Linked DNA regions of Homo sapiens: region 2 is linked to region 1. A link means that fine-mapping ties the variant in region 1 to the expression of a gene that starts in the linked region. Tissue or cell type: tibial nerve. Region 1 holds a variant in brackets; the other region holds the start of a gene. All regions are shown on one strand. Distances are between the middles of the regions.

Region 1 (5,682 bases):
CACTGGGTATGTTGGGCATCTGGGAATGGCAGAGGAAGCTAGAATTCTCTCTTCCCTGTCCTCTGAGTGGCTCCCCTGGTCTCTCGGAACATTACCAGTGCTGTCAACGGCGGCATAGCACTTTACAGTTAAACTGCACAGCCAGCTTGCCTCACGGGATCTTCTCACACACACCCACCCCCAACCATCGCCCCTCACAGCACAGGAACCATCTCAGTGTCCTCGTCTCCCCGGTACACATACACACGTGCACACACATACAAGTGGTGCACACTTGCAAGAACCAGCATGCCTCAAAGAGCTCCCTGATGGGGGTTGGGGGCAGCTGCTGTCCATGAAGCCCAGGGACATCTGTTGCTCCTGCAGGGCCCCCCTTCCCCCAACAACAGGGCTCAGCTTACCAGATGAAAGGCCGAATTTTTCCAGGCCCCTCTCGAAGCCCGAGCCTTGGAAAGTGCCCAGGAGGCGGGATGGTTTGGGGAGGCGGGATGGTTTGGGGAGGCAGGCTGGGGCTGCTCACCAGAGAGGCAGAGCCTTTCCCCACAGCCACAGAGCAGCCTCTACTCTGCCACTTCCCCTCCTTCCTGCCCTGGGCTTCCCACCTTCATCCCACCCTGTTGGCAGCCCTGGGAGAGTCCAAACAGCACAGTGGCCAGTGGGGGTGCTGTAAGTGGGCCAGTGGGCCCGGGTAGGTGCAGAGGGACATGGTGGGCCAGGACTGTGTCTGTGGTGCCTTGAGAGTAGGGGGAAGCCACCCGGGAGGAACCTCCCCACGTGTGGCCTTAGGCAAGGCCCTGACCCTGGCGGCACCCCATGAGTACGTAGCTCAGCCAATCATGTCGTTCAGTGCTGTAAGCTCATTCCCCTGCCCCACCCTGGGTGGCAGACTGGCCCCACCCTGGTATCCTGTTTTTTAGGCACCCCCAACCACACCCCAGCCAGCTGGCCTGTCCCTTCATCACCCAGAGGAGCAGGCACCCAAGGATGGAAAAGCTTTGTGACCTGGGGGCCTCTGGGAGGTGGGCCTGGGGCCAAGAGAGTCCTTGTTCTGCCCAGGCTGCTCGGCTGGAAGGCAATGCTCCCACCCAACTTCTGCCCCGGGGGCCAGTGCCAGGTCCGCGAAGGGCCATGGGCTGGTGAGTTGACAGCTGCTCACAGGAGCCTGCATCTCCTCTCTTCTCTTGGGGCTGACTCCAGTCTTCTGCAATCCCAGGCCTGCTCCAGAGCTGCTGTTTATCATCAGCAGAGGACTTTCCTTCTGGCCACGAAGGCCAGTTTCTCCGAGCCCATCTCCTTTTTTTTTTTTTTTTTTTTGAGACAGAGTCTTGCTCTGTCACCCAGTCTAGAGTGCAGTGGTGCCATCTCGGCTCACTGCAACCTCTGCCTCCCAGGTTCAAGCGATTCTCCTGCCTCAGCCTCCCGAGTAGCTGGGACTACAGGCGCACGCTGCCACGCCTGGCTAATTTTTTGTATTTTTAGTAGAGACGGGGTTTCACCGAGTTAGCCAGGATGGTCTTGATCTCCTGACCTTGTGATCCGCCTGCCTTGGCCTCCCAAAGTGCTGGGATTACAGGCGTGAGCCACTGCGCCAGGCCGCCCTGCTAATTTTTGTATTTTCAGTGGAGGCAGGGTTTCATCATATTGGTCAGGCTGGTCTCGAACTCCTGACCTCAGGTGATCTGCCCACCTCGGCCTCCCAAAGTGCTGGGATTACAGGCATGAGCCACCGCGCCAGGCCTCCATCTCCTTCTTTACCTTGGCTTTGAGCAGAGCGAGGCTCGGGGAGGAGGTGGGTGCTGCAGTCTTTGTTCCTCTTTTCCTGATCCTGGAGATAATTTTGGGAGATGGCCCCAAACCTGAACCTTGGTTTCTTAGCACCTTAAAGTGTGTCAGGCTGGGAGTTTGACACCCTGGTCCCAGCGTCTCTCTGCCAGTGGTGTGCTGGGCAACCTCGGACTAGCCACATCGCTCTCTGGGCTGCAGGGTGTTGTGAGAGTGGGGTTGGCCAGGACTCGTGCCTCAGAGGCTGCCTCCATTGCAGTCAGTTTTTTGAACAAGAGTTGGGGCCTCGGTTTCCCACGGGATTTGTTTTCCACCAATGACGTGGGTGTGAAGTAGTACCATAGAGTATTTGTCTCCTTTAAAAACAGACAAAAATCTTGAATAATAACACCAGGACCTACAATGTGCCTGGTGTCCTGCTAAACACCTTCACAGCTTTTGTTTATTTAAATCTCACAACATCCCTATGAGGCAGAGAGTGTTTTCCTCCTGATTTTGCAGGTGAGCAAACAGAGGCTCAGAAGTTAAAAGAAGTAGCGGAGGCCCAGGTGGCTGTAGGGAGGTGTCCTTGATTATGAGGCTTGACAGCCCCTCTGAGACTTGGTTTTTGATTCTCAGAGCTCGAAGTTACCTTAAAGATAGGCCTACGGGTTTGGTTCACAGTTGGGAAGCTGAGGCCCAGAGAGGAGAAGTAAGCCGCGATGGGGCCTGGAACCAGGATCCTGTTGTCCCAGCGTACGCTGTGGTGCCACCCCCGGGAATTGTCTGGCTCTTCAGTCTGGCACCGGAGCCGAGAATGCCCCCTT[C/T]GTCCCCAGTCTCTGCTGATACTCGACCTCCGTGCTCTGAAAGCTGCGATTGTTACAGTGAGCTGGGCTGCCCACGCTCCTGCCCCCGCCCCTTCCCACTGTGGGGCCCTTTGTGCTTCTGGGTCTCAGCACAACAGCCGGGCTGTTGATCCAGAAAGCGCAGCGTGACTGGGAGAGGGCGGCCTGCCATGTTCCTCCCGGCAGGGATTGTCCCAGCCCTAGCCGAGGGGGACCGAGTGCTGCAGTGATGAGGAGAACAGCCCATGAGGGAGGTCAGGAGACCTGAATTCCAGTCCTGGCAAGACCCCACCCAGCCTGCTCTGTGACCTCACTCCCTCCCCAAGTCTCGAGCTCCTCATCTGTAAAACAAGAGGCTGGATGGTGGAGGAGTGTGGAGAGGGGCTCTGGAGGGCAAAGGGAAGATTCCAGCGTGGGCCCATCCCTGGGCGGTAGAAAGAGCACTGGGCCTGGAACCAGGACAGCCAGGTCTCAGCTCAGGCATGGCGGCATCAGAGCTGTGTGTCCCCAAGCACGGCCCCAGCCTCTCAGGGCCTGGGCTGTCTGGTCTGCAAAGGGAGTGGAGTGAATTACTCCTGCTGGGACATAGCACAGGCACTCAGGCATCAGATGAACACTGGAGGCACGGGGAGGATGTGTGGGTAGGGAGGTCACGGGCATCCAGGGTGGGGAGTGGAGGGGGCTCCATGCTGGCTGGGCGCGAGCTGCATTGGCACAAGGCATTCTCTACCCATCCAGGCTTCTGGAAAACCTTGGGTTGGACTCCGGGAGTGTGTGGTTCTTTTCCTTTGTAATTTCTCCTTTTGAATAGACCATTGACTTCCTGAACGACAACATTCGAAGAGGAATTGAGAACTACTATGATGATCTGGACTTCAAAAACATCATGGACTTTGTTCAGAAAAAGGTGAGCCAGGCGCTTTGGGGTAGAGATGCGCCTCCCGTGCTCTTAGCCCCCCATTCAGGCCCCTGCTCAAGAAGATGGGGTGAGGGACCAGGTGACTTATCCATTCCCAAAGCAGGTGGCTGGCCAGATTGGGAGGCAACAGTGAGCATGGATGGCCCACCAAGGATGGGGAAGCCAGGGCCCAACCTATTCAGCCAGTCCTCTGCCCACATTCCTGACCCAAAACCTTCACACCCTTCTGTTCCTCTCCAGTTACACTGGCTTCCTGCCCCATACCCCCAAATAAAACAAAGTCAGGTGTTGCTACAAGCAACCTTGCAGGGTCCCAGGGCACCACCCTCCAATGGGCAAGGATCCTCCTTCCTTGAGGTGTGAGCAACCTCAAGGGGAGTAACCTACCCCAGTCCAAAGCCCCCTCTGCCAAGTCTCTTCAGTGACAACTCACTCCTTGTCAAGTTAAAGACATCCCTGATTGGGAGAAAGTTCTTCACTAATTTCAGTTTCCCCCAAATATGGGACAGTGAACCAGACGCCTCTCTTACTTTCATGACACTTCCTTGAATGTGATGATGATCCTATTCCTTTTGGGACACCATCTCTCCCCTCTAGGTCCACCCAAATCTGTTGGTGCAATAATAATAATAATAATAATAATAATAATAATAATAATAATAATAATAATGGCAGTGGTAGGGCCAGCTGCTGTCCTGGGTGGCTTTTGTACATCAACTTCACTTGGTCCTGAGCCTCAGCTTCCTCACCTACATAAGGGGAATAATGACAGGAGCTCTTGGGGCGTCGTCATGAGGATTACCTTGACTTAATTCAGGAGACGTGCTTAGAACAGTGCCAAGCACAGGGTGAGACCACAGTGCCAGCTGTGGGGATCATTGGTATGTTCTCCTGGGTGAGGACAAGTAGAGTGAGGGCTGCAGGCCCACTCAGCCGGGACAGCACTTCCTGGGACATAATCTTGGGGGCCTCAGCTGGCCTGGATCCTTGTGCCAGCTCTCAGTGGGGACTAGCCTCTCCCCACATGCAGGGCCACTTGCTGTGGCCGCTCCCTTGGCCCAGACTTTCTCTTCAGTCACAACAGGTGCAGCCTCTGGAAGGTCTTTTTCTGCCAGGGATGTGCCTGCCAGCTTGGGCTGGGAGAGCTGACTTCTGCTCCGGGTGGAGTGAGATGTTTTTATTGGAACCAGCCTTTAGCTGGCTTGGGGATTTCATTTCTCCTGGCATAGAGGTAGGAGGTGATTAATGCTGAATGGGCACTTGCTTGGTGCCAGGTCCAGTGCTGAGTGCTTCATGCATGGCACTCTATGTAATCACAGCTCAGCTGTGCAGAGCTGCCATCCTTATTCTTGCTTTACAGACAACCATCTGAGGCTCAGAGAGGCTGACCAACTTGCCTGAGGTTGCACAGCAGGGAGTGGTGGTCTGAGGATTTGACCTTGGGTCTGTTCCATTGCAAGACAAATGCCCTTTGAACTACATTGCAGAAAGACAGTTCTAGGTCCCAAAACCTGGTGGCTTAAGGGGCACTGTGGGGACTCTGAAAGGTGTCTGGCTACCAGGACGTGTACTGCAGCCCTGGTTGAGCCCTCCAGTCCCAGCTCCCTGCTTCAGCTGGCTGGCAAAGCTTTGCATGGTCCAGCCTGTGCCGCCCTTTCATCCTCATGCTCTGCACTCTCTCTGTTCCAGGCTTGTTGGCCTCCGCACCTGCTGCTGAAATACAAGCTTGTTTCTGCGTGGGGCCTTTGCATGGGTCGTCTGGCTTCTTTCTGTTTCCATGTTTCAGATGAAATATCCTCTCTACAAAGAGCCCTTTCATGACCTGCCAACCTAGAGCTGCCCCTCCCCACTTTCCCCCTATTTCTCCATTTCCAGGTTGCACAGCACCTTTCCATCCAGTGCTCACTCTCTGTCTCTCCACTGGAATGTGTTCCACCTGAGCAAGGGCTGCCTTGCTTTTGCTCACCCTGTCTCTCCAGTGCCCAGGACAATGCCAGGCACATACCAGCCATCAGGAGGGTTACCAACTACTTCCTACAGGAGCAGGGAGGGGAGGCAGGGAGGGGCTCGGCTAAGGGGAGAGCTCCAGGCAGGTTGTGAGGTGTGGGTGCTCTCCTTGCTAAGGGCAGGGCCAGCTGAGCTGGACGGGGTGGCTCC
Region 2 (5,000 bases), 44 kb before region 1:
TCCAAGCTTCTATGGGTGGGGAAGAGACTAGCACCTCAAATAATGGGTGTGGACTTAGCTCTGCAGGGCTGGGTGGAGGCTCTAGCCCTCAAAGAGGAATAAAAAGTTAGTCTTCCTCCTCAAAGGACAGAAAGGACAACTTTTTTTTTTTTTGGGGACCGAGTCTCGCTCTGTCATCCAGGCTGGAGTGCAGTGGCACGATCTTGACTCATTGCAACCTCTGCTATCCAGGTTCAAGTGATTCTCCTGCCTCAGCCTCCCGAGTAGCTGGGATTACAGGCACCCATCACCATGCCCGGCTAATTTTTGTATTTTTAGTAGAGCCAGGGTTTCACCATGTTGGCCAGGCTGATCTTGAGCTCCTGACCTCGAGTGATCCCCCTGCCTTGGCCTCCCAAAGTGTTGGGATTACAGGTGTGAGCCACCGCGCCCGGCCAGAATGGACAACTTTTAACACTATGGTAAGATGCCTTCTTGGCCCTCAGATAATCATTTGAGGGCAGCTTGCATTACTCTCTGGTTCTCTTTCCACCTTTTCTTTTCCCTGTTGTTTTTTTTTTGAGACAGGGTCTTGCTTTGTTGTCCAGGCTGGAGTGCCGTAGCACAATCATAGCTCACTGCAGCCTTGATCTTTTGGGCTCGAGAAGTGATACCCCCACCTCACCCTCCCAAGTAGCTGGGACTACAGGCACGAGACACCATGCTTGGCTAATTTTTTTGATTTTCAGTGGAGATGAGGTCTTGCTACGTTGCCCAGACTGGTCTGAAACTCCTGGACTCAAGCAAACCTCTCACCTTGGCCTCCCAAAGTGCAGGGATTACAGGCATGAGCCACTGTGCCTGGCTCTGGTTCTATTTCTCTACCCCACACAAACATCCTCCCAAGGTTTGTTTGTTTTGTACCAGGAAATTGGTTTCCTTTTACCCTTCCAGGCATGGCACTGCCTCCCTCCCCACCCCCCAATCTTGCTTTCTTCCTCCTAGGGCAGAGCTCTGGGGGCTAAAGCCAGCCTGGACTAAGTCTCTGAGTCTGTCCTTCTCTGTTGAGTTTGTGTATGCAGGAGCCCTGGGAACCCAGGACTGGGGACTTGTATAAGAGTGTCGTTCCTGAAATCACCACCAGGGACCCCACCCAGCACTGCTAGAGCTTATGACCTCTGCCATGGATTTAATTACTGAAGGCCACAGCAGGGATTGTCTGGCTCCCAAGTCCCAGGCTGAGCTAGGCTTGGGAGACAGGAAACAACAGTGAGTAAAGCTGGGACCATCTAGCATGAGAGACAGGCTCACAGCCACCTCTGGTCCCAGGCTGAGAAAAGGCCAGGTGGGAGGAGGCTGGGTTAGTGGCTGGCTATGTGCAAGAGAGGGAGCTGCCTCCCTCACCTATAGTTTCTGTTTGTTTGTTTTTTGTTTTTTTGAGATGGAGTCTCCCTTTGTCACCCAGGCTGGAGTGCAGTGGCGGGATCTCGGTTCACTGTAACTTCCGCCTCCCGGGTTCAAGCGATTCTCCTGCTTCAGCCTCCCCAGTAGCTGGGACTACAGGCATGCACCACCCTGCCCGGCTAATTTTTTTTGTATTTCTTAGTAGAGACAGGGTTTCACCACGTTGTCCAGGCTAGTCTCGAACTCCTGACCTCAAGTGATCCGCACGCCTTGGCCTCCCAAAGTGTTGGTATTACAGGCGTGAGCCACCGTGCCCGGCCTTGTTTTTGTTTTTGTTTTGGAGAGAGGGTCTCACTCTGTCTCCCAGGCTGGAGTGCACTGGCACAATCACGGCTCACTGCAGCCTTGACTTCCCTGACTCAAGCGATTCTCCCGCCTGTCTCCCAAGTAGCTGGGACAACAGGCGCGCCACCGTGCCTGGCTTTTTATTTTTTTTAATTATAGAGTCGGCGTTTTGCCATGTTGCCCAGGCTGGTCTTGAACTCCTGGGGCTCAAGCCATTCGCCCTCCTCAGCCTCCCAAAGTGCTGGGATTACAGGCGTGAGTCACCGCGCCAGGCCTTCAACCTAGTTTGAAGATGGGGTTTCCCGGGAGGAACCCTTCCCAAGGCTGGGTTATCACCTGGCAAAAGAAGGGGACTTCCGAGGTCGTTTGGTGAAGGCCTTCAGCAGATCTGTTTCACGAGCAAACTTCAGACTCCAGCTCCATGGGGGCCTATTAGCCCCACCCTGGTCTGCCTCCCTGAGCCTTCCTGAGCCGAGCAACTCCACTTCCTTATTCCATTCACGTTTAGCACACTCATTTGCACTTTCAACACCTGGGCGATTAATTCTTGCCCTTTTCCCAAAGTTTTCCCTCTTGACAAGAGGAAAGCTTGCATTTCTATGTACCCCGATTAGGCACGCTCGCTCTCTCCTTAGAGCACCTCTGGTTCACCTCTCCCACGCCCCCTGCATTAGCACAGGCGTTTCCAGAGTTGCACGCGAGCTCATTTGCAAGACCGTCTCCCCCTCCCATCCCTTCTTGGTCCCCTCTAGGGCCCAGGGCAGCAGCCCCGCCCCTGGCCCGCCCCCTCCCAGACGCTAGGCAGCCGCGGCCTCCCATTGGCCGCCAGGGCTGGCAGGCTTCCCGGCTGGGGCTGTGATTGCCGCGCTCCAGTGTCAGTCCCGGAGAGAACGCCGGTGGCGGGGCTGGTAGCCCGGCAGCCGCAGGTGGGGCCACGAGCGCTGGCTGAGGGACCGAGCCGGAGAGCCCCGGAGCCCCCGTAACCCGCGCGGGGAGCGCCCAGGATGCCGCGCGGGGACTCGGAGCAGGTGCGCTACTGCGCGCGCTTCTCCTACCTCTGGCTCAAGTTTTCACTTATCATCTATTCCACCGTGTTCTGGGTGAGTGACCCCAGTAGGGCCCGGGGATGGGGGTGGGGACCCACAATCCGGCCGCCCCCTCACTGGCCCGGGGTTGGGTCCACACTTAGCCGCTCCAGGGAGTGCGCGGGTGAGCGCGCGCGGACTCCTTGTCTTTCTACCTCACATTCGGGCGGCCAGAGCTCAGCCTGAATTTTCAGCCGCCCTTTCGGGAGTGTGAGAGCCGGTTGTCGACCGACCGAGTGCCACCTGGCTCACCTGTGTGCACCGGCTGGGCGGTTTGCCCGCTGTGCGTCCGCTGGCCGGCTGGCTAGGCTGAGGTGAACGCGCTGGCCGCGCCCACCACGCCTACCCGGTAGGACTGACTGCCTCTGCATCGGCCTGTGGAGCTTAAGTAGTTAGGATTTGCAGTCGGGGTTGGGAGACCTGGATTCCGGGTCTGGTCCCTGCTAGTTACTTGCTGATGCCCCTGAGCGAGACGCTTCCCCGCTCCGTCTTGGTTTCCTCTTTGGTGGATGCACGTGCCTCCTGCGTGGCGAGGAGAAGTCCACCAGACGACGTCTCCTGCACACCTAGGTGCTCAGTTTCCGCTGTCGCTGGGCTTTACCTCCTCCTCTGCCTTGTTAGGGGGCAGGATGGTAGTGTTTAGACATGAACCAAGCTTTGAATTCCGTCGCTCCGAGTGGTCTTTTATTTTATATTTTATTTTTTATTTAAAACATTGCTAATCTCTGTATCGTTCCAATTTCAGTTTGTGCGTTTCTGAAATGAGCACTTGCTGAGTGATCTTGGGGAAGTTACTTCATTCCTCTCGGCCATGGTTTCCTCATCTGTAAATGGACACAGTAATTATATTCAACTTGTAGGATGCTCGCGGAGATTACGTGAAATAGGCCGGGTATGGTGCCTAGTGAAGAGCTCAAGAAGTGTGAGACATTATTACTATCGTGGGCAGGGAATTTGGACACCTGTGGTGTAAGCTGCCCCAAGAGATTGGGTTTCTGTAAGGGCGTTTCATATTAGGCTGGGCCCTATTCTAGAGATGAGGATATCTTCCTATAGGCCAGCTCCGCCCCTGTCACTCCAGAATCGCTCTCTGCCTGCAGTATGCCACAAGAGCAGACTTGCCCAGGGACCCAGGGTGGTCACTGACACCCCATTCCCACCAAATACACACACTCTCCCCTGGTGTCCTCCTTAGCCCCTTGCTGGGTCTCTTCTGCTAGCAGGAGCTGCTGGATTTGCCATCAGGACTGGCTTTCCCTGTGACCCCTTTGTGGGTGGGGCCTTGCCTGGTAATCGGAGATCCAGATTCAGCTCTGTTACTGACTTATGGATATCTTAGGCAAGTCACTTTCCTGTTTTGGGCCTCAGAACTGTTCATTGACTTTTCCATCTAGAAGACTAGTCTGAGGCCAGTTTCCAATCCAATTCTCTGACTCTAGGTAATGTGGAGGAGAGATGAACAGTATGTTTGGGGGGCGGAGGATGGAGCAAGGACCTGTTGGTGGAAGCTCTAGGGAGACAGAAGGTCATATGTGGGATGGGAGTGGGGGTGATTTGAGCTATAAATCAGCGGTTGCATCAGATTCTTGTGCCCTGGCATAGGTATTTATTTAAATTTACATAAGCTTAATTGTAGTAAATTACTTACTAGAATTAAGGTAATTCTAGTGTGCAGTCAGTATTGAAAACTGCTGCCCTAGATGGTCTCATAGGTCCCCTAAGTCCCCAGGATTTCTGTGCCTGCCCCTTGTGTGTTCTGTGAGCCCTTCTCTCTGTAAATCAGAGTTGAAAGAGCCTAAGGTTGATGGGTGGGGAGGTAGGAAGATGGAGTTGTATTTTGGGCTTCACCCCTTCCCCAGATATATAATCACAAACCAGTCTCTCTACCTCCTCACGTTTCCATTTTCTCATCTATAAAATGAATAAGTGAATCTCTGCCCTGTACCTCACTGAATTGTTTTAGGATTAGTGATATGGGGAAAGAGTGACATATGAGCAAAATCAGTGCAGTACAAACATACCTCATGCAGTTAAATAAAACTGAACTCTAATTTTTAAGGCTTTGTTCTGTCACTGTCCTTTGCAGCCCCCAGAGAAGCCCACCCAATGGCCCTTGCCTTGCTTCTCTTGGGCAGGGTGGTTCTCAGAACTTGGAATCCCTCCTCTGCCAACTGAGGTTGCCTTACC

What was found. PIP is the estimated chance that this variant, and not a neighbour inherited with it, causes the effect.
Region 2: it holds the start of TSPAN15, and the variant in region 1 is fine-mapped to the expression of TSPAN15 in tibial nerve (GTEx, PIP above 0.99). The same link has a PIP of 0.9 or more in amygdala, caudate, neural progenitor cells, nucleus accumbens, putamen and spinal cord.

What each region holds. Positions count from the first base shown.
Region 1 is chr10:69,492,177-69,497,858 of GRCh38, forward strand. It overlaps TSPAN15 (tetraspanin 15), which reads left to right. Exons shown (of 8, transcript NM_012339.5): 4 at 3,418-3,513. Among named protein-coding and RNA genes, the nearest start is that of TSPAN15, 44 kb to the left of the region's middle. The variant C/T (reference allele first, on the strand shown) is at 2,589.
Region 2 is chr10:69,448,863-69,453,862 of GRCh38, forward strand. TSPAN15 (tetraspanin 15) reads left to right here and starts at 2,603. Exons shown (of 8, transcript NM_012339.5): 1 at 2,603-2,828. The coding sequence starts at 2,733. RefSeq lists enhancers at 1,006-1,624, 1,625-2,242, 2,192-2,331, 3,123-3,623 and a silencer at 2,452-2,761.